Homo sapiens: one gene and its partners. The protein of the gene in region 4 purifies or fractionates together with the protein of the main gene of each other region. This does not show direct contact. Each region holds a gene or a part of one and is shown on either strand. Other genes may lie near its edges. The genes, in order: SYMPK, DNAAF5, BTAF1 and BSG.

What was found.
Region 1: the proteins of BSG (region 4) and SYMPK purify together in Homo sapiens (co-immunoprecipitation; 5 studies listed by BioGRID and IntAct, with this or other methods). This does not show direct contact.
Region 2: the proteins of BSG (region 4) and DNAAF5 purify together in Homo sapiens (affinity purification with mass spectrometry; 4 studies listed by BioGRID and IntAct, with this or other methods). This does not show direct contact.
Region 3: the proteins of BSG (region 4) and BTAF1 purify together in Homo sapiens (affinity purification with mass spectrometry; 4 studies listed by BioGRID and IntAct, with this or other methods). This does not show direct contact.

The regions. Positions count from the first base shown.
Region 1 is NC_000019.10:45,860,144-45,867,595, reverse strand, and holds the start of SYMPK (symplekin), read left to right. Parts: upstream 1-4,448; 5' UTR 4,449-4,538; intron 4,539-5,568; exon of another isoform or gene 5,569-5,696; intron 5,697-7,452. Other genes in the region: FOXA3 (hepatocyte nuclear factor 3-gamma), read right to left, coding at 3,071-3,139. UniProt on the Homo sapiens protein: Scaffold protein that functions as a component of a multimolecular complex involved in histone mRNA 3'-end processing. Specific component of the tight junction (TJ) plaque, but might not be an exclusively junctional component. May have a house-keeping rule.
Region 2 is NC_000007.14:721,973-729,709, reverse strand, and holds the start of DNAAF5 (dynein axonemal assembly factor 5), read right to left. Parts: upstream 3,012-7,737; 5' UTR 2,990-3,011; coding exon 2,395-2,989; intron 2,121-2,394; exon of another isoform or gene 2,034-2,120; intron 1,841-2,033; exon of another isoform or gene 776-1,840; intron 48-775; coding exon 1-47. UniProt on the Homo sapiens protein: Cytoplasmic protein involved in the delivery of the dynein machinery to the motile cilium.
Region 3 is NC_000010.11:91,926,751-91,933,770, forward strand, and holds part of BTAF1 (TATA-binding protein-associated factor 172), read left to right. Parts: intron 1-4,631; exon of another isoform or gene 4,632-4,770; intron 4,771-7,020. UniProt on the Homo sapiens protein: Regulates transcription in association with TATA binding protein (TBP). Removes TBP from the TATA box in an ATP-dependent manner.
Region 4 is NC_000019.10:575,589-582,608, forward strand, and holds part of BSG (basigin isoform 1 precursor), read left to right. Parts: intron 1-2,185; coding exon 2,186-2,533; intron 2,534-3,911; coding exon 3,912-4,068; intron 4,069-4,790; coding exon 4,791-4,873; intron 4,874-5,057; coding exon 5,058-5,194; intron 5,195-5,726; coding exon 5,727-6,003; intron 6,004-6,717; coding exon 6,718-6,742; intron 6,743-6,925; coding exon 6,926-6,989; 3' UTR 6,990-6,994; intron 6,995-7,020.

The DNA of each region.
Region 1 (7,452 bases), about 45 Mb from region 4:
GTTGGCCAGCCTGGTCTTGAACTCCTGACCTCAAGTGATCCACCCTCTTCGGCCTCCCAAAGTGCTGGGATTACAGTCATGAGCTACCATGACGAGCCACCATCTTCCTATCAATCTATCTATCCATCCATCCATGCATCTATCTATCTATCTATCTATCTATCTATCTATCTATCTATCTCCCTCCCTTCAACAAATCCATTCCCCCTCACCCCAAGTCTTACAGTGAAATTGCAGCCACAGTTACTCCCTTCCCCCATGCAGGCTCTCCCGCTGGTTGGTGGCTTCGGGTCCCCTCCCCAGAAAAAGAAAAGGGATGAGGTGAGAAGGTGATGGATTAGAGGGGTCCACAGAGTTTCCAAATCCCCCTATACCTCCACCCCCCATTTCTGCAACCCAGTCAGGCTCTCTGGTATTGCAGAGTAAGACAGACAGGGACCCCAGGGCCCTCCTTTCTGGCTCCCCACCCACCCGGAAGTCCTCCTTGAGGTCCGACCTCAAGCACTCCAGCTGCCCTAATCCACCCTAGGCTTTCCCACGCCCCGGGGCTGGGATGAACCCCTGGTGTCCGGGTCTGAGCCGGATCTCCCCTGACAGGGTGGGGCTGAGATTGGGGGGAAGCCCTTGGGGGACCCGCACCCCCACACCAGGAGACTGGAATTTCTCCTCTTTCATTTCCTTATTGTCTCTGGAGAAGGGTGTGACAGGGAGCAGAGGAAGGCAGTGTGAAGCCAGAAGCCAAGTTTCTAGTCCCAGACCCAACCCAGGACCCCAGTGTTCTGCGTGCGGGGCTTCAGAGTTAACCACCTCTAAAACAGGGGAGCAGCTGGACCAGCTGATCTGCAAGAACCTGAGGCCAACAGGGATATCCCAGGATGGTAACTTTCCAAGTTCTTTCCAGACAGCAAGCTGCCCTGAGTGTTAACGTCACCCCAAGCGGGAGGGTGCTATGGGCAAGAAGTGGTTTGGGGACCCTCTCAGCTCTCAGTTGCTGGCTGAGTGTAGGTATTTCTCTCCCCATTGTTCTGACCCAAGGGGAAGAGGTGGGCTTATCTGATGGGAAGGCTGGGGAGAGCCTCAGACAGTATCACCCAACCATTTCCATTCCTCCAAATACTGACTCTCCCAAAATATGCCCTGAAATGCTGATTACCTCCAGACTGTCCCTCTACTATTATTATTTTTTGAGATAGGGTCTCATTCTGTCACCCAGGCTGGAGTGCCGTGATACGATCACAGCTCCCGGCAGCTCGAACTCCCAGCCTCAAGTGATCCTCCCACCTCAGCCTCCCAACCAAGTAGCTTAGACTACAGGCATGCCTGACTAATTAAAAAAAAATTTTTTTTTTAAAGACAAGGTCTCCCTATGTTGCCCAGGCTGGCCTCAAACTCCTGGGCTCAAGAGATCCTCCCACTTCGACCTCCCAAAGTGCTGGGATTACAAGTGTGAGCCACTGTGCCGGCTTTCCTTCAATTTCTGACACAATTTCCATACAAATTGTCCCCTAAACTTGGATCTATTCAGACTGTGCCCCAAATATCAACTCCTCCTGCCTAGACCCCCATCATTTACTTAAGATGTGCCCCCAAAACAACTGTAGTTGGTTTGTACAATTGGTCTGTAGGTGGTTCCCTTAAATCAGGTCCCCAGACTGAGTTCTGCAGAGGTCCAGCTGGGATCACCCCCACTACCTGGAACCCTCCATTTCCCACCTGGGTCTCTGCCTTCCGCATCTCACAACTGATACCTCCAGCCACCCTGCCTCCACCTCTCAACACTCCCAGTCCCTTTCCCTGTTGGCCCTGCCCCACCCCACGTGCACCTCACACCTCCCCAAACCCAGGACTGGCCCTTCCCAGGCACCTTGCCCAGCCCTGAAGGCCTGGGGATCCAGGAGTCCCACCCTACAGTTTCGAGCCCCAGACCCAAGACTCAGGCACACTGGGGCCCCCGCAGTCACCAGATCTTGACTCCTTGGAGAACCTAGCCATTCCTGCCCCACACCCCACCTCAAGCCCACAGTCCCCTTCCAGGTTAGAAGTCCAAGTGTCCAGACCCCCATAATTCTCAGACCAAGAACCCAACCCCCAGCCCCAACAACCTCACAACGTTGATTACAGAGTGAGGTAGCTAAGGTGTAGGGGTCGTTGCAGCAAGACGAATGGGGGTCAGACTTGAGGAAGGACTTTCTGTCTGTCCAGGTGAGGGGATTAGAATATGCCGCCACCCCCCACTCCAGGGAAGCCTTGTCTGAGGTGAGACTGGATGGGAATTTTAGCAATAGCTGGAGGTTGCTGGACTGGCGGGGAGCAGGGGAAGGTGCACAATCTAAAACTCTCCATCTTCCGACTTGGGGAGTCCCTGCGGAGGGTCATGGGTAGGGATGGGGGGGTGGAGATCGGCCCCTCTCCTGCCAATGCTGATGGCTACATCTTCTGCTCCCAGATGCCCAACTCTAAGCCACCTGTTATTTCAGACTCCAAAAACGAAGCTTCATCTCTGAGCACCCCCATCTCTGACCCCTGAGCACCAATCCCTATGTCTGACCCTACCTTAGATTACCAGCTGATCCTTAGCCCCGAACCCCGGTTCTTTAACACTGTGTGCTGGCCCTGAGCTCCCACCTCAGTCTTCCCCTTAATGGTGACTCCTCCTCCATCTTTTAGTCTTTCTTTCCCTCCAACTTTGAACCTCACATCCTGAAACCCCCTAGTCTGTCCCCTACCCTGGAACTCTGATTCCTATCTTTGGTTTGTACATATAAATCCCTTGCTTTTTGGGGCTCCAACACCCGGCTCCCAAGTTTAAGGTGTGACCCGACCCTTGGCTAAATTTTCCTGACTTCCATTTTTAAGCCCTGGCCGCGGCGAGGCTGCCCAAACAGCGCTCCCATCCATGCCTCGTCCCCGGTCCCCGACTTCCACACCTGGTCTCCGTGTTCCCAGTTCCTCAGCTGCCCAAGTAGACGCCTTTGCCTCCATTTGAACCCACAACCAGTCCCTGCTCCATGTGAGCCCACACCCCGATACCTGCCCCCAACTTCCCGCTCCGCCATCCCCGAGGACACACCTCGCCCGCCTCCGGGTAGTAGCTCCACTCGGCCAGGTCATGGGCCTCCATCTTCACTGAGCCCAGCATCCCCCGGGCTTACGCCCCCACCCGCCCCCGCTCCGGCCCCGGGGGAACGGAGCGCTCTGGATCTCTCAGCGGGCACGGCCCGAGCTCCCACCGGCGCCCGCCCGTCCGACCGCCCGGGGTACGGCTGTCCCGAGCGCCGCGGGAGGCGGCCACGCTTTATAGCCGGGACACCCCCGCCCTCGCCCGCCCCGGGCTCCCCTCCCGCCTCCCCGAGGGCGGCGCGCTCGGACTGGGGCGCCCCCTGCGGGATCGCCAGGAGACAGACCTCAGGCGCCGGGGGCCGCAGCCCCAGGACGCGACAGCTGGGGGTGATTCAGGAGTGAGGGAGCTGCCCGCAGCGACGCTGCAGATACCAAGGGCCCCGAGGTCAGAACTCTGGAGCCTTTCTACCTCAGGGGGCTTCATCATCTCGGCAGGAGAGGACGAAGAGCCAGAGCCCTGCATGACCGTGGCGGAAGAAAGGGGAATCAGAACGCTAGGGCCACTATGCGACTACAAGGACCCGTAAAAGGTCCCCGAAATCACATCCCCATTGGACAGACAGGAAGACTGAGGCTTCCGACGGCTAGAAATGCTTAACTTGGCCGGGCGCGGTGGCTCACGCCTGTAATTCCAGCACTGCAGGAGGCCGAGGCGGGCGGACGAATCACTTGAGGTCAGGAGTTTGAGACCAGCCTGGCCAACAGGGTGAAACCCCATCTCTATTAAAAATACAACAACTAGCTAGGCGTGATGGTGCGTGCCTGTTATCCCAGCTATTCGGGAGGCTGAGGCAGGAGAATCGTTTGAACCTAGGAAGCGGAGGTTGCAGTGAGCCGAGATCGCGCCACTGCAGTCCAGCCTGGGAGAGAGAGCGGGACTCCGTTTCCAAAAAAAAAGAAAGAAAGAAAAGAAAAGAAAAAGAAATGCTTCAGACTGTTGAAAGGGTCAAGAACAAAGATGGAGGGGATCGGGGCCTCTCCGCAGACCCCACTAGGGCAACAGACCACCTCCCCTCCAAGACCCAGGAGCTTCGCTGCCCGAACTCCGCACTCTCCAAGACCAGCCAGCCGTCCAGGGACTCAGCACCACTGAGAACTCCATTTCCCAGAATGCTCTAGCTCCCTTTCCGCCCGGTGCCTCCGAAGGGACTACATTTCCCAGAAGGCCTAGCCGGACCCAGAGCCGGAAATGAAGGGTCTGCTCGCCGTAGTATGGAGGCGGGCAGAATGCCGCTCGCACGGGACGAGGCATGGGCGGGGTCGGGCTGTGCTCTGGACTCCATTTCCCGGCGGCCCTGGGTGTGTGGCGCGTGCGCACCGTTCCCGGCGACGAACGGAAGATGGCGGCGGCGGCGGCGGCGGAGTGTAGGAAGAGGCACTGCTGAGGGGGCGCGAGGGGAACGGAGGCCAGAGCTGCGGTGAGCGGGAGGCGGCGTTTGGGCCCGGAGACGAAAGGAGGAGGCTCCTAAAGAAGCAGGGGCTCGGGCGGGGAGGGCATCGCCGTGGGGAGAGGGGAACAGTGGCTTTCGCGACCCATGTTTCTTCCCTTGCTCAGGACCCTTCCTTGGCTCCCTAGTGCCCTCGAGGCAAAGTTCCAACGTGGCCCCCCGGGCGCCACCGCCCCGCAGACCTCGCTTGCTTCGACTCGGCCTCTTTGCTTTTTCCCCCACCTCTAACAGCCGCCCTGGCCTTTCGGTTCCTTAAACTTGCCATGCGCTTTCCCGCTTCGGGGATTTTGCACAGGCTGTCCCTTCTGCCTGCAACATCCTTTTACCCATTCGGCTTGGCTAACTCCCATTTCATCCTTCGGGTCTCGGCACCAACGTCACTTCCTCTGCGAAGCCCTCCTTCCCTGCCCTCCATCCAGAAATCCGCCTGTTAAATGCTTTTGTCGGTCCGTGTTCCTTCATGTCACGTGTGGTCTAATTTGTTATCCGACTCTTATCTGTGTGCTGTTTTATGATGTCTATGACCGTGTGTTCCATGAAGGTAGGGACTAGGTTTGTCTCTGTCGCCACTGTGTTCTCAGCACAGCGCCAATCACGCCGGAGACGCCCAGCTAATGTTCGTTGAAGGAATAAAAGATACTCCTAGAGCCAGTTTGGGGAAACAGGGTAGTCATCAGATTCCTAGGTAGCAGTGGGGCAGGGTACCACTTCTTAACGAGTACATCGAGAGGGAAGGGGAAACAGTGATACTGTTCATCATAGCAAAAGGCTACACGCATCCCAAATGTTCTTAAATAAGAAGATTGGCTGAAAGAAACTATAATACATCCACATAAAAAATACTATGCAACTCTAAAAAGGAATGAGGTAGATAAAAGGAAATGATGAAAATCTCTATACACTGATATAGTGGCCTCCAACATATATTAAGGGAAAACAAGTGAAGTGGAGGTTGGTGTTTATTGTATATGCTTTTTCTTTTTTTTTTTTTTTGAGACAGGGTCTCACTCTGTCGCCCAGGCTGGCACGATCCCAGTTCACTGCAACCTCCACCTCCCTGGTTCAAGTGATTCTCCCACCCCAGCCTCTCGAGTAGCTGGGATTACAAACGTGCCCCACCACACCCAGGTAATTTTTATATTTTTAGTAGAGACGGGGTTTCTCTGTGTTGGCCAGGCTGGTCTTGAACTCCTGACCTCAAGTGATCTGCCCACCTCAGCCTTCCAAAGTGCAGGGATTACAGGCCTGAGCCACCAAACTCGGCCTGTGTAGGCTCCTTTTTTTTTTTTTTGAGACAGAGTCTCACTCTGTCACCCAGGCTGGAGTGCAGTGGCGTGATCTCGGCTCACTGCAACCTCTGCCTTCCAGGTTCAAGCAATTCGCCTGCCTCAGCCTCCCAGGTAGCTGGGATTACAGGCACACCACCACGCCTGGCTAATTTTTGTATTTTTAGTAGAGATGGGGTTTCACCATGTTGGTCAGGCTGGTCTTGAACTCCTGACCTCGTGATCCACCTGCCTCCGCCTCCCGAAGTGCTGGGATTACAGGCGTGAGTCACCGCTCCCGGCCCTGTGTATGCTCTTTTTGTAAATGAAAGGGAAATATGTATATATGGGTTTTTTTATTTTCATTTTTTTTCCTTTTTTTGCATAAAATCTAGCTCCTGCAGGAGAATTTTGTGTATGTGTGTTTAAAAAAGAACAAAACAAAACTGAAAGCATAAACCAAAAAGCAGAAGAAGAATGAAACAGGGTAAAATATTTTGGTTGATCTGAATGTATTATCATGAAAAAAGTGGAAATGTTTATTATGGGGTTTTATTTTATTTTATTTTATTTTTTGAGGCAGAGTCTCATTCTGTCGCCCAGGCTGGAGTGCAGTGGTGTTGGGATTACAGGTGTGAGCCACCATGCCCGGCCTGTTTTTTTTATGTTTTGACTGGGGACGGCATGCCATGCCGGTTGTCTGGTGGCCAGGATCCTTGGCTTACGTAAACAGACCTGGGGGTAAAAAACAATTCCTTTCAGATAAACAGTACTGTAGCATAGTGGTAAGGAAGATATGCAGCCATGCTGCTGACTCTGCCTCTTACAAGCTATATGCCTTTGGTCAGGTCACTTTACCTCCCTGGTCTTCAGTTTCCTCATCTGTAAAATGAAAATTAAAAATACTAACTCCCAGCCTGGGCAACATGGCGAAACCCTTCTCTACAGAAAGTACAAAAATTAAATGGGGATTCGCCTGTAGTCTCAGCTACTTGGGAAAATGAGGTAGGAGGATCGCCTGAGCCCGGGAGGCAGAGATTGCGGTGAGCTGAGATTGCGGCACTGCACTCCAGCTTGGGCAACAGAGTGACACCCTGTCTCAAAAAAACAAAAAATGTAAACCTAACTCATGTATATTAATTCTAATATATACATATTAATTCATTTAAACCTTGGTGTCTGAGGTTTAAATGAGTTAATATGTATATCTTAGAATTGTGCTTAGCACATATTAAGTGTTCTCTCTCTCTCTTTCTCTTTCTCTCTCTGTGTGTGTGGGTTTTTTTTCTTTTTTTTTTTAATTTGAAACGCAGTTTCACTCTTGTTGCCCACGCTGGAGTGCAATGATGTGACCTCGGCTCACTGCAACCTCCTCCTCCCAAATTCAAGCGATTCTCCTGCCTCAGCCTCCCGAGTAGCTAGGATTACATGTGCCTGCCACCATGCCTGGCTAATTTTTTTGTATTTTTAGTAGAGATGAGGTTTCACCATGTTGGCCAGACTGGTCTCAAACTGCTAACCTCGGGTGATCCACCCGCCTTGGCCTCCCAAAGTGCTGGCATTATAGGCTTGAGCCACCGTGCCCGGCCGTGTTCAATATATATTAACTGATTATTTTT
Region 2 (7,737 bases), on a different chromosome or scaffold from region 4:
CTGCATCAGGGGCCCGATCAGAGACTCCGACTGCATGTGGAAGTGGTCTGAGGGACAGGGAGGCCCCCAGTTACCAGAGCTGCTCCCACACGCCTCGCCCAGCTCTGTGGGCTTCCAGAGGACGGCTGCCTGCCTATGAGTTCCTCACCTCCCTTCCTCTCCTACGCCAGGTCCTTGCTGCATGAACAGTACACAATCCAGGCTGCCAAGGAGAGCTCTGTACCGCCCGGCACAGGAAGAGGCTCAGGGACAAGCGTCCCACCCTGATGACACCTGTGCAACCCAGAGGCTTAGGAGGACCAGCGGGGAAAGGCTGGGGGTGCAAACCCATTGTGGCTGAAGACCAGAGAGCCTGGACCTGCTGAAGCCAAGGTGGAGGCCTGACGGGGACACTGGCCAGAGGAAAGAAGCCGAGCCCAGAAGACAGAGGCGAGGCCACACTCCCAGCCCCACCTGAGACGAGACCCCAGGCTCCTCCAGGAAGCTGGGCCAGCACCACTCCAGGCAAAGCCACTGCACTTCCTATTTGTAAAGTCCCCGCAGAAAGTCAGAACAAGAGGTGGCAGGCGCCTGTAATCCCAGCTACTTGGGAGGCTGAGGCAGGAGAATCGCTTGAACTCAGGAGGCGGAGGTTGCAGTGAGCTGAGATCGCCCCACTGCACTCCAGCCTGGGAGACAGAGTGAAACCCTGTCTCAAAAAAAAAAAAAAAAAAAGTCAGAACCAAAGGGTCTCTGGCATCCAGGCCGCCTCTTGCCTCAGCTCTGCACTACTTGGGGCCCGTCTGGGAAACGGCTATTCCAGTGAGACTTTGGGTGAGCGCCTCAACCTCTCTGCCGTTGCCCAGTGTGACCGAGACCAGAGGTGAGGCCCCCCACCCAGGGGAGAGGAAGGCCAGAGGTGCTGGAGATGAGGGGATGCTCCAGGCAGAGGCACAGTCCCTCACCCCACAGCAACCAGTGAGCACATACCCCAGCAGGCTGCGCTTGGGGCTGGGGCACAGATGGGCACAGTGCTGTCCTGTGGAACCTACGGTCCAGGGAGGGAGCTCGTGGGGCTGATGTACAGACTGGGTAGGGAAGTGGTTGAGGATGAAGAAGAAATACATTAAATGCCAGGAATTCTCAATGGCCATGTCCATCCAGCCCAAGGTTCTTCCCCAAGCTCCACAGGAGTTCTGGACCATGTGAAATCCAAAGTTAACCAACGTGGAAATCTCGGCATTTCCCCAAGTCCAGCTCTTCCTCTACTTCTGGAATCTATTCTCCACGCAGCTGCAGTGATCTTTTAACAACCTGAACTCGGGTCTATCACTTCTATTGACACCCCCTGCACTTCCCACTACATTCAGACCATCACTGGGACATCACTGGGACGGCCTGAGCTGGCCAGATCCCTCACTGCTTTCCTGCTCCCTACCGCCCACGGATTTATAGCATCAGTGTTCCCTCCTTCGGAAAGCCTTCCCGCCAGCAGGAAGCAGGCGCCTGCTATCATTCCACATCCCAGCCAGGGGAGGGAAAGGGCAAGACCCTGCAGGAATGGCCAGCTAAGGAAAGGGAACGACCGGATCAGATCAGAGCTCTAAAAAAGATGGGGAACGTTATAAAGTGGAGGGGAGAAGCGGCCTCCTTCCACTTAGGACAGTGGTCCAAGCCAGAGCGGAAAGGCAGGGGAGTAGGATGAATGGGACAGAAAGTGAAATGACCAGAGCAGAGTCTCAAAGCGCGTGCCCTCAACCAGGTGCAAGTCCTGCAAGCCCCCGAGGGAAGGAAAGGGGGCAGCTATCAGGGCACACCCCACCCCAAACCGCCTAACAGGAATTTCTGCGGTGGTTTCCAGGTATCTGGACAGAAGCGCTGGCTCGTGGGCCCGGGTGGGGTGGAGGGGGCTCAGGCAGGGAGGAGGGTGGGAGGTGAGGGTCGCGGGAGGGCGGCGTGCAAGGAGGAGGATGGCACAGGATAGGCAGGTGGAGGGGGCACAGGGAGCAGGCAGGTGGGGGGCGGGGCTTGGGGCGTGGAGGGTGGAGGCGGGGAGCAAGGGGACAGGGGAGTGAGGTGAGTGAGGGCCAAGCAGGAACAGGGGTCACGGGGCAAGGAGCACGTGGCAGCGCAGGAAACAGGTACATGGGGGTAGAGGACAAGGGAGCAGCTGAAGGGCGCGTTGGTGGCGGGACGTGAGGCAGGGGAAGCAGTGGTGGTGGGAGGAGGGGGCCGGGCGGGGTGCTTTGGGGCAGGCGGGTGGGGGAAGCGGCGCATGGGGGGTCCGGGATGTTGGGGGGTGCGGGCGTGGAGGGGGGCGGGGCCGAGCCGCGGGGGTTGTGAGAGGGGCCGCGGAGGTGGAGGTGGGGGTGAGAGTGTGGGGTGGCGTGTGGGAGCGGGGCCCGGGGTGCTCACCGGGCGTGGCCTGCGCCAGGGCGGCGGCGCAGCTGCAGCTCTCGCGGCGCACGGCGGCGAAGGGGTCGAGCAGGGAGCAGCGCAGCGCGCGCAGAGCGTCGTCCAGGTGGGGCGCGAGCGCGGCGCCGCACAGGTCCACGGCCAGGCCCAGCAGCTGCACAAGCGCCAGGCGCAGCTCCTCACAGGCCTCGGGCGGGCGGCGCGCGGGCACGGGGCCGGCCAAGCGCGCGGCGAGCGCGGGCAGCAGGCGCGGCAGGGCATCGCGGGGCCGCGCGGCGCGGCGCAGGCCCAGATCCAGCAGGTGCACTGCCAGCGCGCGGCAGCCCTCGGCGGGGTCGCTCAGGCAGCGCAGCAAGCGCGGCAGCAGTAGGCGCGCCCAGGGGCCCTGGAAAGCGGTGGGGTCGGCGGCAGGGCCTGGCTCCTCCAGCGCGCGCCGCAGGGCCTCCAAGGCGCGCCGCCGGCCCGGCTTGCTGTCGGCCTCCAGCCCCGGCAGCAGGCGGCTCAGGGCGCGGCTCAGCTCCACCGCCTCAGCCGTCTCGGCCCCCTCAGCCGGGTGTGGGGCCGCCACGGCCTCCGCCACCCCCAGCGCCGCCATCTTGCCCGCGTCGCCGGTCACTAAGGGGAACAGCGCTTTCGCGACTCTCAGCGCAGATTACGGCAGCACTTCCGGTCCGCGCTGCGGGCGGGGCGCCGGGCTACTTCCTCCCCGCCGGTGCGCACGTGGGCCTGTGCTCTTGTCGTGCTCGCCCGCTGTCCCCCTCTGTCGCCGGAACCCCCGCCAGCCTGCCTGCTGGGCCTTGTCCTGTCCCCATTGTACAGATGGGGAAGGTCTCGGGAGGGTGCAGCTCGCCCGGGATGCGGGTCCCGGGCTATAGGCCTGGGCCTGCCCCTAGGGAAGCCTGCCCTGCAGCCTAGGGGGCTTGGAGAAGGAACCTGAGTGGTCCCGCCTGGGACCAGGGTAGCCGGGAAGCCCCTGTTTGAGCCGCCTAGAGCCCCTCTGGCTTTGGGAAGGTCCGTTCCAGGAGGGAAGGACGCTGGTTCTGTGGACTGGATCCCCCTGTGGTGTAAGACAGGTGCCTGGTCTGGGCTTCACGTGCAGCCTGTCATTAGATCTCAGGCGTAGCCGCCCAATAGGTTCGCCTTACTCGCTGCCCAGGTAGAGCCAATTTATCAAGACAGGGGAATTGCAATAGAGAGTTTAATGCATGCAGAAACTGGCTGCATGCAGAAACTGGCTGCATGCAGAAACTGGCTAAAGGACACTGGAGCTTTATTGCTCAAACCAGGTTCTGAAAATCCTGAGATGGGTCATCTAAGGATAATTAGGCAGGTAGGGGGCCAGGGAGAGGGCAGTGCTTATTGGTCGGGTTGGAGATGAAACCATGGAGAGTCAAAGTTGATTCTCTTGCTGTCTTCTGTTCCTGGGTGGGATCACAGAACTGGTTGAGCCAGATTAGTGGTGTGGGTGGTGGCACCTGGTGCATCAGAATGCAGAGCCTGAAAAATATCTTGAGCACCAATCTTAGAGTTGATGATAGTGGTGTTATCCTAAGGAGCAACTGGGGAGGTTTGGAATCTTGTGGCCTCTAGCTGCATGACTCAAACCACAATTTCTAATCTTGTGGCTCATGTGTTAGTCTTACAAAAGCATTCTGGTCCCCAGGCAAGAAGGAGGTTGGCTTCAGGAAAGGGCTGTTATCATCTTTGTTTCAAAGTTAAACTATAAACTAAGTTCCTCCTAAAGTTAGCTTGGCCTACTCCCAAGAAATAACAAGGCAGCTTGGAAATTAAAAGCAAGACAGTGTTTCACAGTAGTGACCTTGACTGTGGACTTGAGTGGAGACAGAGGCGCCTAAACAGCTTGGAGTCGGAGTTGCTGTGAGCCCAGCCTAGAACGCGAGTTTGACAGCACTCACTGCAAACCAGGAGTCCCCAAGTCTGGTTAGCCAGGCACTTCTCATCTGTGACCATGCACTGAGTTTTCTAAAGGCAGAATGTGTGTAATTTTAGGACAGAACTTCAAGTTTGACCTTCTTTTTTGTTGTTGATCTTCGTGTTGCAAAATGGTGGTGTTTGTCGGTACGTCTTTTTTTTTTTTTTTTGAGATGGAATCTTGCTCTGTCGCCCAGCCTGGAGTGCAGTGGCGCGATCTCCGCTCACTGCAGACTCTGCCTCCCAGGTTCATGCCATTCTCCTGCCTCAGCCTCCCAAGTAGCTGGGACTGCAGGTGCCCACGACCACGCCCAGCTAATTTTTTGTATTTTTAGTAGAGACGGGGTTTCACTGTGTTAGCCAGGATGGTCTCGATGTCCTGACCTCGTGATCCGCCCGCCTCAGCCTCCCAGAGTGCTGGGATTACAGGCGTGAGCCACCACGCCCGGCCCATCAGTACTTCTGAAAAGTTGTTATGTAGCATATTCAGTAACCTTCATTCATTGTTTCCTCCAACAGGCATTTGTTTGACCAGGCACTGTCTGCAACATGTGGGACAGGATGACAATGATGTAGAAACTGGCCATGGTCCCTGCTCTCCCAGATCTTAGGGTCTTGCAGGATGAGATAGCCCTTAATGGAAGGATAAATTAGTATGTGTTTAACCGTGGTGGTCCTGAGAGAATGAGTGTCAAGGGATGTTGAACTAGACTTTTAAGGCTTCCCTGAACAAATGGTAGCAGAGGTGAAATATGAAGAATAAGTAAACACAGTGTATTAGTCCATTTTCACGCTGCTAATAAAGACATGGCCGAGACTGGGTAACTTATACAGGGAAAGGTTTACTGGACTCACAGTTCCACATGGCTGGGGAGGCCTCACAATGATGGCCGAAGGCGGGAAGGAGCAAGTCACATCTTACATGATGGCAGCAGGCAAAGAGAAAATGAGAGAGCCTGTGCAGGGAAACTCCCCCTTATAAAACCGTCAGATCTCGTGAGACTTATTCACCATCATAGGAACAGCACAGGAAAGACCTGCCCCCATTATTCAGTTACCTCCCACTGGGTCCTTCCCACAACACGTGGGAATTGTGGGAGCTACAATTCAAGATGAGATTTGGGTGGGGACACAGCCAAACCATGTCACATAGCCAGGTGAAAGGGCGGAGGTGGGAGACGGGGAGTGTTGGAGAGAGAGGAAATAGCATGAGCAAAGGCCTCATGGGAGTGTTACGGGCTGAATGGCGTCTCCCCAAAATTCATATGCTGAAGTCCTAACCCCCATAGTTCAGGAAGTGATCCTGTTTGGAGACAAGGTCTTTGCAGACGTGATTGAGGTGAGATGAGGTCATGAGGTTGGGCACTCATCCAATATGACTGCTGTCCTCATAAAAGGAGAAATTTTGGAGATAGACGTGCATACAGGGAGAATGCAGTATGAGCATGAAGAGAGACCTCAAGAGGAGCCAGCCCGTACCCTGATCTTGAGAAATCAAATTTGTTTCATTCAGCTGCCCAGCCTGGTGTGCTTTGTTACGGCAGCCTCAGGTAGCAAACAGGGAGGGAGGCTGACCCTGGTCACAGGGGAGCAGGCAGGGAGTGAGCAGATGGGTGGGGCCAGGCCATGGGGGCCTCTGTCCTAAAACATGGCAGACTGAGGATTTCAAGGTGGGAGCATTGGCAAGATCGAGTCTGCATTTTTCAAGGACCCCTTTGGCTTCCGTTGAACGGATTGGTCGGGAGCCCTGGGAAGGCTGTGGCAGTGAGTGCTGAAGACGAGAAAGAATAAGCGCTTGAATTACGGTGGTGGGACTTCACTTTTCCTTGCTCCTCCCATTGAAATACAACAAAATACCCTGCACATAGCAGGCGACGAGGAAAGGAGCTTGAGAGTTGACAGACGGGCTGGAGACCTCTGGACTGGAGGAATAGCAAGGTGGTGGGTCCCCTGGGTTTTCTTTTTCTCTCATGTGTTCCTGCACTAGTCCCCAGGGAAGCCTGTGGCCCAGAACAGCCAACAGGCACAGACAGAAATTCTCCAAGGAAAGCCTCCTCTCTCTGGCCAAAGCCCTGGGAAAGGGGACGCCCAACAGAGACCTAGAGGGTAGCTGCCACCTTCACCCCACAGTCTGCTTTCAGGGCCGATTTTAAAGCTGCTGCAGGTGCATTAACCTGTGCTGTGCAACTGGGGTTCGAGTGGACAGTCTGCACTGCACAGGTAGTGTCAGAGGAGCCTGAAATCTGCCCTTCCTCTCTTAGCACAAAGAGACCCAGAACGAGCATGTTCTGTCCTGACACAGCAAAAGGTAGCCCAGTGACACCAGGCGGCCCAGGGAGGTACCTTTCACCCCTGCAGGCAGCACCCATGGGAAATGAGCAGCAGTCCCAGGAGAGCCAGAAGAATAAAGCAGACGAGGAGGGCAGTGCCAGGGCTCTGAAGACGAAACTGCTGTTGGAATGACAGACCACAAAAACAGGCTGCAATCTACACCCTGGACCTGAACAGAGCAACTGCCTGGTGGAATAGAGTAGGACAAGGAGTCTGCAAACATCGTAACCCAAATGTCCAGGATACATCTGGAGATCACTTGTCATACCAAGAACAAGGAAAGCCACAACCTGAACATGGTAAGGTAACGGATGTAAATTCCAAGATAGGTCACATGTTGGAATCATCTGCCAAGAATTTTAAAGCAGAGTCATAAGAACCAGCTGGGCGCGGTGGCTCACGCCTGTCATCCCAGCACTTTGTGAGGCCAAGGCGGGCAGATCACCTGAGGTCAGGAGTTTGAAACCAGCCTGGACAACATGGTGAAACCCCATCTCTACTAAAAATACAAAAATTAGCCAGGCGCGGTGGCTCACGCCTGTCATCCCAGCACTTTGTGAGGCCAAGGCAGGCAGATCACCTGTGGTCAGGAGTTTGAAACCAGCCTGGATAACATGGTGAAACCCCATCTCTACTAAAAATAGAAAAATTAGCCAGGTGCAGTGGCTTACGCCTGTCATCCCAGCACTTTGTGAGGCCGAGGCGGGCAGATCACCTGAGGTCAGGAGTTTGAAACCAGCCTGGACAACATGGTGAAACCCCATCTCTACTAAAAATACAAAAATTAGCTGGGTGTGGTGGTGGGTACCTGTAATCCCAGCTACTCGGGGAGGCTGAGGCACGAGAATTGCCTGAACCCAGGAGGTGGAGGTTGTAGTGAGCCAATATCATGCCACCGCACTCCAGCCTGGGTGACAGAGCAAGACTCCATCTCAAAAAAAAAAAAAAAAAAAAAAGGCTGAAAACTCCCCCAATTCAATGAAAAACATAAATCCACAGATTCCAGAAGCTCAACAAGGCTTCATAGGACAAGCCCTCCAAAAACCCCATACTAAGACACATCACAATTAAACTCCTGGA
Region 3 (7,020 bases), on a different chromosome or scaffold from region 4:
ACAGGAGCCTCTCTCCTTTTCCTGCCTTCCATGGCATCTCATTTCAATCTGTTCTTCGCTTCAGTCATATTATTTACTGATTTGAAGATTTGAACATGAACATGGTAATCTTTCTAATTAATACCTTTAGTTGTTTCCTATTGCCTTAGGATAAAGTCCACATTCTCAAACAAACATATCTTACCAAGTCCTTTGTGATCTGGTTCCTGTGTCATCTTTTTAGATTCATCTTGTGTCAACTTCTCTGTACTTCCCCTTCACCTTCTTCTCTCTTCTATCCTCCACCCTCCCCAGAATTCATTTTGTTACCCCCTACTGTTTATCTTTGGAACACTTCTTAGCCCCATCTCAGGTATGGCTAGTTCTGACCTTAGTGTGTTTTTTTGTTTGATTTTTTTTTTTTTTGAGACAGAGTTTTGCTCTTGTTGCCCACGCTGGAGTGCAATGGTGCGTTCTTGACTCACCATAACCTCCACCTCCCGGGTTCAAACGATTCTCCTGCCTCAGCCTCCCGAGTAGCTGGGATTACAGGCATGCACCACCACACCCGGCTAATTTTGTATTTTTAGTAGAGATGGGGTTTCTCCATGTTGGTCAGGCTGGCCTCGAACTCCTGACTTCAGGCGATCCACCTGCCTCAATTTTTTGATCTAAGCTTATATATTACCTTGTTCAGGACATTTTCTCTGGTTTTACTTCATCTGAGCTATTTGCACCAATACATATTCCTATCAGTCATAATATTTATATTTTGTAATTGGTTAATTGTTCTCTTACTTGCTGGATTAACATAAACTCTGAGAGAAGGAAATGTGTCTTTGATTTTTCCATGCTCAGAATGCCTGGCTCCTAGTGGGTGTTCAGTACATTTAAAAAAAAAATGAATGAATGATTTTGCTTCTTGCTTTGGTACCTTTTGAGTTGCCATATGAGTTGCCTCATAAAGCAAAATAATGGTATTCAAAGATATAACAATTATTATTTAAATTATTCACAAGAAACACTGAAAGCCTGTAACATATACTAATTTGTTTTTTGCTGAGGTTGACTTTGTGGAAGCAAGTCAAGTAACTAGTGAATGACTAGCTGACTTTCCAGCATCCGCATCTTAGGGACAACATTGTTCTCTACTCCTACATTTGTAGGAGTATGATTTTACCGTAATTTGTGCATAGTAGACTATTTCCAGTGTTTTTCAGTGAGTACTTTTGAGTTTAACTGCCTTTTTTCTTTTTTTTTTTTTTTTTTTGCAGTAAGGAAAACTTTCACTATAGCTTTTTAATATTGGCCATTTTCTAATTTTAACAATCATCGGAATATTTTTTTCTTTTTAAAGCTATCTCCTATAGGAAGGCAATTAGAATAATTTTTGAAGTTTATAATATAGTAAATTCTGTGATAGCATGGCCATTTATAATGCAAAATTGATATGATGTATTTTATGTGGTCAAATTTTTTAGACCCTGCTTAATAGGCTTGGTTTTACTGTACTTTCAGTTGTAAGAATGTGGCAGATTATGAAATGCATGGCCAACTCTTGATCTGTAGCTGAATTACATCTTGCAAAAATAACTTTGTTACTCTCTAAAATTGTAAATACAATCATAGCATTTGAAGTTCTCTGTCAAATCCAGTGAAATATCACTGGAAAATGATATGACTCTTTTAAACCCTTAGTAAAAGACCCAAAATCCAAATGTAGGAGTAGAGAACAATGTTGTCCTTAAGATGCGGATGCCGGAAAGTCAGCTAGTCATTCACTAGCTACTTGACTTGCTTCCACAAAGTCAACCTCAGCAAAAAACAAATTAGTGTATGTTACAGGCTTTCAGTGTTTCTTGTGAATAATTTAAATAATAAGTGTTATATTTTTGAACACCATTATTTTGCTTTATGGGGCTTTTTCTCATTATCATGTGTTACTTAGTTGGGATTTTGCCACCAACGGTAAAAGCAACCTTTGCGATCGCAGCACTGCACTCCAGCCTGGGCAACAGAGCAAGAATCCATCCCCCCCCCCCCCGCCCCCCAAAAAAAGCAACCTGAGATGGATTTCTTTGGCATTTTTGTTGTTTGTTTGTTTGTTTGTTTTTGGAGGCAGAGTCTCACTCTGTCCTCCAAGCTGGAAAGCTGGAGTGCAGTGGCACAATCACGGCCTCAAGTGATCCTCCCACCTCAGCCTCCCCAGTTGCTAGGACCACAGATGCATACCACCATGCCTGGCTAATTTTTTTTGTATATTTTGTAGAAGTGGGGTTTCATCATGTTGCCCAGGCTGGTTGCAAACTCCTGGGCTCCAGTGATCCACGTGGCTTTGCCCCTAAAGTGCTGGGATTACTGGTGTGAGCCACTGCGCCTGGTTTAGGTTTATTCATTGGTGGGGAATCTGTAGCTGTGTTGGGAACCATGACTTAATACAATTTTTTAAACAGCTTGTTTTTGCTACCTTTGCCTGTTTATGCCACAATTAATGGAACTGATCATTGTATATTGGCTAGTTAATAGGAACATAGTTTTTCCTTAATCAGCTAGAGAAAGTTTCAGAAATATATAGTTTTCCCTCAGCGATCTGTGCTGTAAAGGTCATGTCTAAAATGTCTAGACAGTACTTATAATATGACTGTTTTAAAAGCCATACCTTAGATTTCTCACATATCTTTGCATTTGAAAATGTTACAGTGTTCAGAAAGGGTTCAGAAAAAACAAAAACACATCCTCTTGTGGAAGAAACAAATTGCTACATATAGCAGACCTTTGCTCAATTTTGTTAATTTTCTCTTTGCACTGTTGATACTTCAGAGCAACATTGTTTCAACAGGCCTATTCTGTCAAATAAAAGGAAGTTTCTTGATGTAGGGGACGTTCAGTGGGTCCTGGACAGGAAAATGTTAATGTAGAAAAAACTACCTTAATTACCAATAAAGGACAACACAGGTTTTCCAGGCCTATTCCTCCCTGTTAATTTATTTTTAATAATTTTTTTTTAATAGAGATGAGGTCTCTCTGTGTTGGCCAGGGTGGTCTTAAACTCTTGCCTCAAGCATTCCTCCCGCATTGGCCTCCCAAATGCTGGGATTACAAGCATGAGCCACCTCACCTGGCCCTTATTGTTAATTTCAATCCATTATAAGATGACAGAAGGAACTATTGTAAATTATAATTCATCAAATATCTCATACTTTAAAAATTTAGAGATAAACTAGAAAAAGTAGAAGAGGCATTAATCAAAGCTTTTCCATTTCAATCCCAATGGTAAATTCCTCCTTATTTCTTTGGCGTATTTCTCAAGGTACTAGTTTGAATTATTATTTTAAAAATTTTTTAATTGTGACACACATAAAAATAGACTGTTCTAACCATTTAAAAATACACTTTAAAATGTATTATGAATTTTACATATTAATACATAATATGTATTAATAAGAAGTTTTAAAACCACCCATACTGCTGCTAAAGAACCTAGATTAGTATGTACTATGTTTTGTCATTAAGATAAAGTCATGCAAGAGGCTATAGGTTGTTCGATCAGGGATGGAGGGTAGAAAAAAATGTCTTGAAGGAAATAGCATAGCTTGGTTGTACATTTTCACCATTCTTCATTTAACCAATATTTACTGAGTGCTTTCTATGTTATAGGTGCTAGAGGTATAGCAGAGAAAAAAACTGTACTCTCCATTCTCATGGAGTTTATGGTCCAGGGTAGAGTGGGGTAACTTATCTAGCAAGCACCTGCCCTTACACCTGGCTTTGGTATGGTTTCACACCTTCATATTGATTCTTAGTGTTCTGTGTGATATCTTTATGTTTAAAACAACATAACATTAACATAGTTTCAAATTACCCACAACATGACCTAGAAAGTATATGTTTAAAAACACTAGAGAATTTGTTGGAAGTTGTTTCTTTTGACCTTAATGATAATATGTGCACTGTACTAAGTTCCACGTATTAAGTACACACTGTACACTATACTAAGTAATGGTCATTATCTTTCCTTACTTCCTGAGTAACACAGAAAAGTAAACATTCAAATCATCTATATTTAAAATTTTACTGTACTTTTGCCACGTGTAAAAAATGTATAACTAAATGGCTACTCTTGACTGGTCATGCTTTTTTAGTTAAGGCCACAAAGCTGTCTTTTTGAGGTATTCTGTCAGTTGACCTTTCCTAATTTATCAGAGAGGTTAAATATATTTTGAAAATATCAGTGAGGCTTTTTGCCCCTCCCCTCCCGAGATGTTTTAGAGTGGAAATACAGTATGTATTTGTTTATTAACTATGACGTAGTAATCTAGGACATGTTTTATTGTTTAAAATGCATGACATTTCTTTCTGTTTATTTTTATGGCTTTACTGTTATGAATTAACATAATGCAAACATCTGGAGAGGAGAGGGGTTAGATTGCAACTGCTAGCATAACCTCTACTACTATGTACTCTTTCCTTTTTCTAGGCAGTCTTTAGAACAGTTGCCTGAAATCACAGGTTACATGAATCATATCTTGTTTAGCTAATTCTCGGAATTGACATCCAGATTGAAAATGGGCCAGATTTCTTATTCTCAATAAATTTATAACCAGTGGATATTACAAAATATAATTTTCTTATGTTTTACTTATCTTCTATAGTCTTTGGTACCTTCCATGCAACTTGACATCTGTTACCTGTGTCTCCTCCATCTGTCTGTCTATCCTTCAGAGAATGAAGAATGTTACTTTTTCCTGCTAGCTGTGTGCAACAGAAGTTTTAGCCAAAAGTAGTATGGGAGTAAGTACTGTGTTCCCTCAGTCAGCCCTCCTTTTAACTTTCCCTTCTCTTCTGACCATCTAGCTTCCTTCAGACCTCTCCCTCACCAAGGGCCCTGTCTACCCTCCAACATAATACTGACTCTGTCTCACGTTCTTTTCCTCTTCCCCACAAGTTCACTGTACCAGCCTTTTCCACCGTGGCCTGGCCCTGATGCTTACCCTGCTTGCCTCATAGCTGGCTATCCTGAGATAACAGGTCAGACTGCCCTCTTGTCAGATCTTTGTCTGCTCATCTCTTTGTTCTTCCTTTTATGTGGTGTCCAATCTGCTGTCCTGAAGAGAGGAATGGAGAACTACGAAAGTGGCTTTAAATCAAGAGAATCAAAGAAGCATTCTTGTGTCTCCATTCCTCTATTCAGGGAGGCAATTTTGGTTACCATCCAAAGTGGAAGAAGTAAGGATAAACAGGCTTGGAATGGATGAGAGAATGAGCTGATCTGCTACCCTCAGGGCATTTGGCTGGTGGGAGAGCAGAGGTGACCTGACATAGCATTGGGATAAAAGGATCTGCAAAAAGGAGAATCAAGAGGAACTGTGTGTCTGTGGGACAGTATCAGCAATTAGGTTAGAGAGGAGTCTAAGGTCTTTGGGCAGGAGTTCTAAGTGAAGCTGGGTAGCAGAGGACCAAAGGAAAAGTTTAAGAAGGATGGAAATTATTGAAGGAATACAGTGCCTATTGCATGGCATTTTTCAGCTTGCTATTTGGGACAAGCGTAACTGCCTCATTCAGAAGGCTGAAGTACTGCTGTGCTGATCTTTTCAGTTACTGAAACATTACATTACCAACTGATTTTTTATGTAAAACTGCTGTCACAGATTAAGGATGTTTCTCAAAGGAAGCAGGAAAAAAAAAGGTAATATAAAATATTTTTTCTTTCCTTAAAGTTGGTTCTTAAACTTGTCCCCAAGAAACTTGAACTTTTCCTTAAGTATAGTTTTAGTTACAGTAAATGTCAACTACATAACAAATATTTGAATACTGTGCAAAGTGTTGTGCGAGACAAAAAGAATGATTGAAGGAGATGAAGCCTAATGAGGAAAATTAGACCTCATGTGACAAATTAATGTGAGAGATGCCACAAAAAAATATAATAAATACTTAAGTAGCTGTTCAAGATGAGAATTCATGTGGATTTCAGAAAAGGAAGTAATCTCTGTTGCATAGTAGTTTGAAATGGTTTCAAGAAGGTGAAGAACTTCAGCTGAATCCTGTTGGATGGGAGCTAGCTGAACAGTTGAACAAAGAGAAAAATACTTTATTTGTTTGCTGTAGCACATTTTATTCTCTTGTTAGAGAAGCAAGCTCAGGCACACCCGAAGATCACCTCTAGTGGTGTATCTGGTTAAATTCCAGGTGATATACCCATATTCTCAGCTGTGCCTCCCACCAACAGTTCCCAGTCTCACACATGGGGCCATTATATCTGCACAGCTGCCTGCTGTTGCAGTGAGGCAGAGTACATACCCACTGCAACCCCAACCAGTGACCATTCTGGGGATCTGGCAGAAACTGGCCAGGAAACCACCCCCTTGAGGAGGGGTGAGCCACTGTAACCCTAGCTTGAAGGGGTGTGAGAGACATTCTGAGTGGAGGAAACAGTATAGGTAAAATTGTGGAAACCAAAAATACCCACATTTGGGAGATACTTTTTGTTTTGGATTACTTTCTGGTAGGTAAGTGTGAGCCATTGAAAGTTTTAAAGTAAGGTAGTGATTTATTCGGGGGCGTTTTAGGAAGTTAATCTGGCAACAGGATGACAAGGCAGTTGGGAGTGTGAAACTGGCACTCTCAGATGGCCTGGATTTGGGGAATATTTGTTCTGGATATAATTTAAACAAATAACAGTATACAGTTTCCTCAGGGAGAAACTGATGAGAGTTGAGCAGTCAAGGATTGAATATGAGTATTCTCCCGATATTCATATTAAGAGTATTAAGAATAGGAGAACTAAGGAAAGAAGAGTTTGGAGAACAGGGTAATATAATGTGCAACTTAGGAAGGAAAGTATTGTAAGAATGGGGTGCTTGCTGGTCGCAGCTGTCAAAGAAGAGTCAAGAAAAATTGACCTTGTAAAAAACTATTGGATTTGGAGCCTAAGAGTTCATTGGTGACCTTCAGGTGTGGTATTTTGGTGTAGAAAGATGGAACCTTGATTTATATGGATTAAATTGTGTATGATGAGGAAATAATATTTTAAACACTTGTTCA
Region 4 (7,020 bases):
TGTCTGAGCACTGGGGTGGGTGGGGAGGAGGGCGGGTGGGGGCGGGCAGCCTTATCCTGCGGGGCTGCTTGTGTACAAGTACCACGCGGCCTGCCTGGCCCTGAGCCCTGGGCAAGGAGGCGGAGGCTGTTTTTAGATGAAGGTGACTTTACTTGAGAACATGGGTTACGTCTCATGTGGCCAGAATCGAATTCTAACCTTTCTGGGGCTGTGGCCGAGGGTCAGGCGCCGTCCCTCCTCCTGCTGCTCATGGGTGGAGGCTCCTGGTGCGGCGGGCGAGATGGGGTGGTCCGTGGGGTGGGGGCGCTCTGCATTGTCCCCGAGGAGCCTCTATGGAGGCTTTCTCTTCCGGACGCCCCCCCACCCCCAGTGACACGTCAATACACAGACACCAGCATCATCAGCATCCGGAGGGACACAGGGTTGTTCCATCCAAAGCCTTTTGGTCCCTTTGGGAGCGATGCTGCCCGCTGAGAAGCTGGCGGACCCAGCGGGAGCACCGGGACCGGTGCAGATGGCGCCTGGGAGCCCGGGACTCCTGGAAAGGTGGCTGGGGGCAGCTCGGCTGCGGGCCCCACCTGGTCCTCCTCACTTTCCTGTGTGCCCTGCCCTGCCTGGAGGTGGGGTGAGGTGAGTCAGGGGCCAGCCCTCTCCTAGCACCCCTGGGTGAGGAGGATGTGGAGCCCAGCCCTGCAGGTCTGGAGGATGAGGAGAGGGGCTGCTGCAGGGCAGGAAGGAGCTTGCCAGCTGGGCAGCCTCTGGCTGTGCTTCCTGCCCTGACTCACCTCGCCCAGCTCTGCACATAGCTGCCAGTGTTGCAGTCTGGGAAATCTTAACTCCCAAGAAATGTAGGTTACCAGGAGGAGATCCCTTTGTGAAAATGGCACTGCCAGCCAGGCGCGGTGGCTCACGCCTGTAATCCCAGCACTTTGGGAGGCCCAAGAGGGTGGATCACGAGGTCAGGGGTTCAATACCAGCCTGGCCAAAATGGTGAAACCCCGTCTCTACTAAAAATACAAAATATTAGCTGAGTGTGGTGGCAGGCACCTGTAATCCCAGCTACTTGGGAGGCTGAGGCAGGAGAATTGCTTGAACCCGGGAGGCAGAGGTTGCGGTGAGCTGAGATTACACCACTGCTGAACAGAGTGAGACTCTGTCTCAAAAAAAAAAAAAAGAAGAAGAGGAGAAAGAAAATGGCGCTGCCAAAACTTGTCAACTGCGCCTGCCCAGAGCTCACCTGAGGTGCTCAGACGTGAACATTCCTGTCCCCGTGGCCTTGGGGGCCGTGACCTGTGCACTGCCACGCAGCCTCGGAGCCGTGTGCACGCATATGCACGTGTGTATGTGTTGTGTGTGTTTGCAGACGTGTGTCCTTGTGTGTGTGTGTGTGTTGTAGCGGTGCCTGGGGAGTCTGACCTCAGAAGGTGCTGTGGGGAGGGCTGCAAGGTCCTGGCGGGAGGAGGCACTCCCCACGCTTCCCCTTGGGCTGGGCTGTTCCTGGCAGGCGAGTGCTAGGCACAGTGTGAGGTTCTGTGTGGATTCTGCTGTGCTCCTTGGCAGCTCTGGGGGCCTTCCCTTGCATTTCGAAGGAAGGGGAGGCGTGTGGCTGGAGGTGAGAGGCCCTGAGGCCCTGCCTGGCTCCCAGCTTCCCAAATCCGCCTCTCTCTGGGTCGCCGCCCTCAGAGATTGCTGAGGACACGAGCTTTCCACCCACGGGCTGTCCTAACGGAGCCGGGCTAGGGGCTTCTGGACAGAGGCCGCCTGCCCCTTTGGGCTTTGGGGTTTGTTTTTCTCAGCAGCTCACCCGGGTCTCTGGGGTCAGGGTATCGGGCAGAAGTCAGAGGACGGTGCGCTTGGGACCTGAGCTCTGGGCAGCCCTCGGGGCTCAGGACTCCTGGCTCTTCTGCCCAGTTTCATGTGTTTTGTGTTTTGAAACCACGTGTGGTCCCACAGTTGTGCCCTCAGAAGCCGCCGTGGCTGCCGTGAGGTAGCAGTGGACGGGACGCCCACGGTCTTTCCCATGCCATGCTGTTTCCAGCCGGGCCCCATCACTCTCCCACAAGCTGAAAGGAAGTGGCTTCTCCACCAGCCCTGGCTGGGAGTCCTGTGGGCGAGGCCTTCCCCAGGAGCTGCCCTCCCAAGTGCCCCAGGCACTAACAAGACCCCACGCGTGCTCTCCCCACAGCCGGCTTCGTCCAGGCGCCGCTGTCCCAGCAGAGGTGGGTGGGGGGCAGTGTGGAGCTGCACTGCGAGGCCGTGGGCAGCCCGGTGCCCGAGATCCAGTGGTGGTTTGAAGGGCAGGGTCCCAACGACACCTGCTCCCAGCTCTGGGACGGCGCCCGGCTGGACCGCGTCCACATCCACGCCACCTACCACCAGCACGCGGCCAGCACCATCTCCATCGACACGCTCGTGGAGGAGGACACGGGCACTTACGAGTGCCGGGCCAGCAACGACCCGGATCGCAACCACCTGACCCGGGCGCCCAGGGTCAAGTGGGTCCGCGCCCAGGCAGTCGTGCTAGTCCTGGAACGTGAGTGGCGGGCACCTCCCTCCCCGCCTCCCTCAGTTTCCCTCCTGTGCCGCTCGCCTCCCGGCTCCTGCTCAGTAGAACCCAGACGCCTCCTCCCCTCTCCGTCCCGCTGTGCCCCGTTGGGCCCACCGCCTGGACGGAGGGGCCCGGACCTGAAGGGGGTGGGCTCGCCGCCTGACCACCAGCGCTGGGCGGCCTGGCTCGGGGCAGGCAGGGCTCTGCCCTCCAGCAGGTGGGTCCTCGTCCTCCCCTCGACCCTCGTGCCATCCGTTCCGTCGTTTCTGCTTCCCCGGGCGCCTGCCCGGCTCCCTCCCTGAGCGTCCATACTGCAAGCCTGAGGGGCCCTCCAAGCTCAGCCCAGGCTTGCAGGTCTCAGAACCTTCTGTGTCCTTCGCAGCATCTCGTTCTAAGGGATTTTCAAATTTCAATTCCTAGCGGGAATATTGTAAACTAACCAAGAACCAAGAGATTTGCTTGGTTGGGGATTGGCAGAAGAACCGGGGTGCTCCCAGCACTGCTGGAGTGCCGTCAGCCTGGGGCTGGGGGGATGTGGGGCCACCTGAGTGCCTCCTAGAGAAGGGCACGGGAGCCTTGGCCGGGGGTGCTGTGGCTATTTTTTTTTTTTTTCCTGGAGATGGAGTCTTGCTGTTCCCAGGTGGAGTGTGGTGGCACAATCTCGGCTCACTGCAACTTCCGCCTCCCGGGTTCAAGCGATTCTTCTGCCTCAGCCTCCTGAGTAGCTGGGATTACAGGCATGAGCCAACATGCCCAGCTAATTTTTTGTATTTTTAGAAGAGACGGGGTTTCACCGTGTTAGCCAGGATGGTCTCGATCTCCCGACCTCGAGATCCACCCGCCTTGGCCTCCCAAAGTGCTGGGATTACAGGCGTGAGCCTCCGCGCCCGGCCACCACCGCGCCCAGCTGGCTACGTTTTTAGAAAAGAATTTCCAGTTTGTGCTGGGGCTGCTACAAGAGCTCGATGCCCTGGTCCCTGCTCAGGGACGTGGGTGGGTGCCTTGTCTGTCCCCACACCCTGGTCCCAGCCTCGTGTGTCTCTGGGCAGGAACATCGCCAGGCGGGGCCTCTGGGTTCCCAGCGCCTTAGCCCAGGGCCCGCCAGCTGCCAGCGAAGGGTGCCTTCCCGAAGGGGGTGCCTTCCCGAAGGGGCCTCCTCAGCAGGCGCTGGGCTCTTCCCTTCCCGGAGGCGTGGCCAGAAGTTCCCCTTGGGCCTCCGGTCCTCGGGGCGTAAGGGCCACGGTGTATTTTTGGGATGAAAACCAGTCCTTCCCGGGGAGGAGCCGCAGGTTCCTGGGGGTCAGGCAGGCAGCGCGGGCCGTGCTCCTCCACTCTGCTGACCGCGTCTCGCCGGGCCTTGCAGCCGGCACAGTCTTCACTACCGTAGAAGACCTTGGCTCCAAGATACTCCTCACCTGCTCCTTGAATGACAGCGCCACAGAGGTCACAGGGCACCGCTGGCTGAAGGGGGGCGTGGTGCTGAAGGAGGACGCGCTGCCCGGCCAGAAAACGGAGTTCAAGTGAGTGCCTGACCACGCCATGCCGCCACCTGCCCCTTCTCACGGCTCTCTTGCCGCCAGCGGCCTGTGGTCCGTGAGAACAAAAGACCGGTCGGCAGGCTTGATCCAGGCGGAAGTTAGGGACCAGCTCCGCGCAGACCCCCAGAGGGAAACCCCAGGGAGGGGTCTGAGGGGCGTCCTTGTGAGGCAGGGGGCTCCAGCAGCCCTGGCAGGAGTCCCCATTGCTTGCTCCTCACTAGGTCCCGGGCACGAAAGGGCGCCACACTGCCAGGTCCCGGGCACGTGTGCGGGCCTCCCAGGCTCTGTGCTCCTGGCACAAGAGGGCACCACACTGAGGCATGCCCTGCTCGGACCCCAGACGCTGTCATGGCCGGAGCTTTGTCATAACTGGGGCTGGGACGGCCCTGGGAGCACAGAGCCTTTTGTTTTCAGGCTGACTGGGAAGACGGTCACAGGGTGTGGGGTGCAGAGCAGGGACCAGAGGTGTGGGGTTCATCAGTCGGGGAGAAGGGGGTCTGTTGGTTCTCTCACCTGTGGGGTCTTGCCAGCCTGGCTCTGTCCTTGGGGCCGCACGGGGACCCCAGGAGTTCTTTTGAGGTTCAGACTTGACTGGGACAGTTTTGCTTTTTCACTGTGCCGTGGTTGGGCCCCTGGAGAACCCTGGGTCCTTGGAGGCGTCCTGCAGAGCTGGTACGCGGCTCACCTGCCTGCTGTGGTTGCAGGGTGGACTCCGACGACCAGTGGGGAGAGTACTCCTGCGTCTTCCTCCCCGAGCCCATGGGCACGGCCAACATCCAGCTCCACGGTGAGTCCTGCAGCCAGGGGTACCGGGCACCACCGACTGTCGGGAGAAGTTGTTGGCCTGAGGCACCCGGCACATCCCAGAGCCCTGGCCCCCTGCTCCCTGGAGGGGAACAGCCCTCCTGCGGGAGGCCGGGGATGGGGGCGGGCCTGCGGTTCCAGGCTCCTCTCTCTCACCCTCCTGTCAGGGCCTCCCAGAGTGAAGGCTGTGAAGTCGTCAGAACACATCAACGAGGGGGAGACGGCCATGCTGGTCTGCAAGTCAGAGTCCGTGCCACCTGTCACTGACTGGGCCTGGTACAAGATCACTGACTCTGAGGACAAGGTGAGAAGCCAAGGAGGCTGGGGGTCCTGGACCCAGCCCTCAGGACTGGGTGAGAGGCCTAGACTGGGGGTCCCGGACCCAGCCCTCAGGACTGGGTGAGGGGCCTAGACTGGGGGTCCCGGACCCAGCCCTCAGGACTGGGTGAGGGGCCTAGACTGGGGGTCCCGGACCCAGCCCTCCGGACTGGGTGAGGGGCCTAGACTGGGGGTCCCGGACCCAGCCCTCCGGACTGGGTGAGGGGCCTAGACTGGGGGTCCCGGACCCAGCCCTCTGGACTGCAGCCCTCCAGACTGGGTGAGGGGCCTAGACTGGGGGTCCCGGACCCAGCCCTCAGGACTGGGTGAGGGGCCTAGACTGGGGGTCCCGGACCCAGCCCTCCGGACTGGGTGAGGGGCCTAGACTGGGGGTCCCGGACTCAGCCCTCCGGACTGGGTGAGGGGCCTAGACTGGGGGTCCCGGACTCAGCCCTCAGGACTGGGTGAGGGGCCTAGACTGGGGGTCCTGGACTCAGCCCTTGCCTTTGGTCCCCTAGGCCCTCATGAACGGCTCCGAGAGCAGGTTCTTCGTGAGTTCCTCGCAGGGCCGGTCAGAGCTACACATTGAGAACCTGAACATGGAGGCCGACCCCGGCCAGTACCGGTGCAACGGCACCAGCTCCAAGGGCTCCGACCAGGCCATCATCACGCTCCGCGTGCGCAGCCACCTGGCCGCCCTCTGGCCCTTCCTGGGCATCGTGGCTGAGGTGCTGGTGCTGGTCACCATCATCTTCATCTACGAGAAGCGCCGGAAGCCCGAGGACGTCCTGGATGGTGAGCCGTCTGCCCTCCTGCCCACATGCCCTGCTCTCGGGGTGGCCCAGGGCCACTCCTGGTCCGTCCCTGCCAGCCCCACCGCTGACCCAGAGCTTGGAACTGAGGAGCCCCAGGCAGGGAGTTGATGGGACCCCGAAAGAAAGTGTGGGATGGAGGGTCTAGCCCCGGGCAGCTGCGGCTCAGTGGGCAGCGGGACCCCGGGAGGAGGAGGCGGCACCTCCGCCCCACAGCCTCACCCGGCCCTTCCCTCCCGCTCACTTGGCTGCAAGCCAGTGTCCTCCGTGGTGAGCCGGCCCTTGCTGCTCTGCATGATCAGGCTCGGGAACCTGAGGTCAGCCATGCTGTGCTCCGGCAGCCCCTGCCTGCCTCCTCGCGGAGCCCTTCTGCCCCTTGGGCTGCGTGTGCCGGGGCGAGGCCTGTGTGGGGCCTGTGATGGCAGCTCCTGGAAAACGCTGTGGGGCAGGGGTGAGGCCCACGAGGCCATGGGGACAGCTCACCATGGGGAGCACACCTGCAGGTGGGGAGGGCTGCCTTTCCCCACAGCACTCAGAAGATGCACGTGGCCGGGGCTGATGAGCTGCCCCGAGCCACCCCTGGGGGTCACTGAGGGCAGGGCTGGCAGCACAGATGCCCCTGCTCGGGGCCTGAGTGGGGCCAGTGCTGACAGGCTGTCCTCTCGTCCTCTTTTTCATGGCGGCGGTCCTTCTTCAGATGACGACGCCGGCTCTGCACCCCTGTAAGTTCCAGCTGTGGGGGTCGGGGGTCCCAAGGAGCGGCCTGCTGCCCCAGGCCTTTAAAACACAAAGGCAGAGCCCCTGGGCTTCAGTATTCGGGGGTCCTGGGGGCCGGGGTGGGCAGGGGTGACTTGGAGAGAGTGACTTGCGGGGGACACCCTCTCACCCGGCCCCTCGTGCCCCAGGAAGAGCAGCGGGCAGCACCAGAATGACAAAGGCAAGAACGTCCGCCAGAGGAACTCTTCCTGAGGCAGGTGCGGTGGGCGGGAGCTCCTCCTGA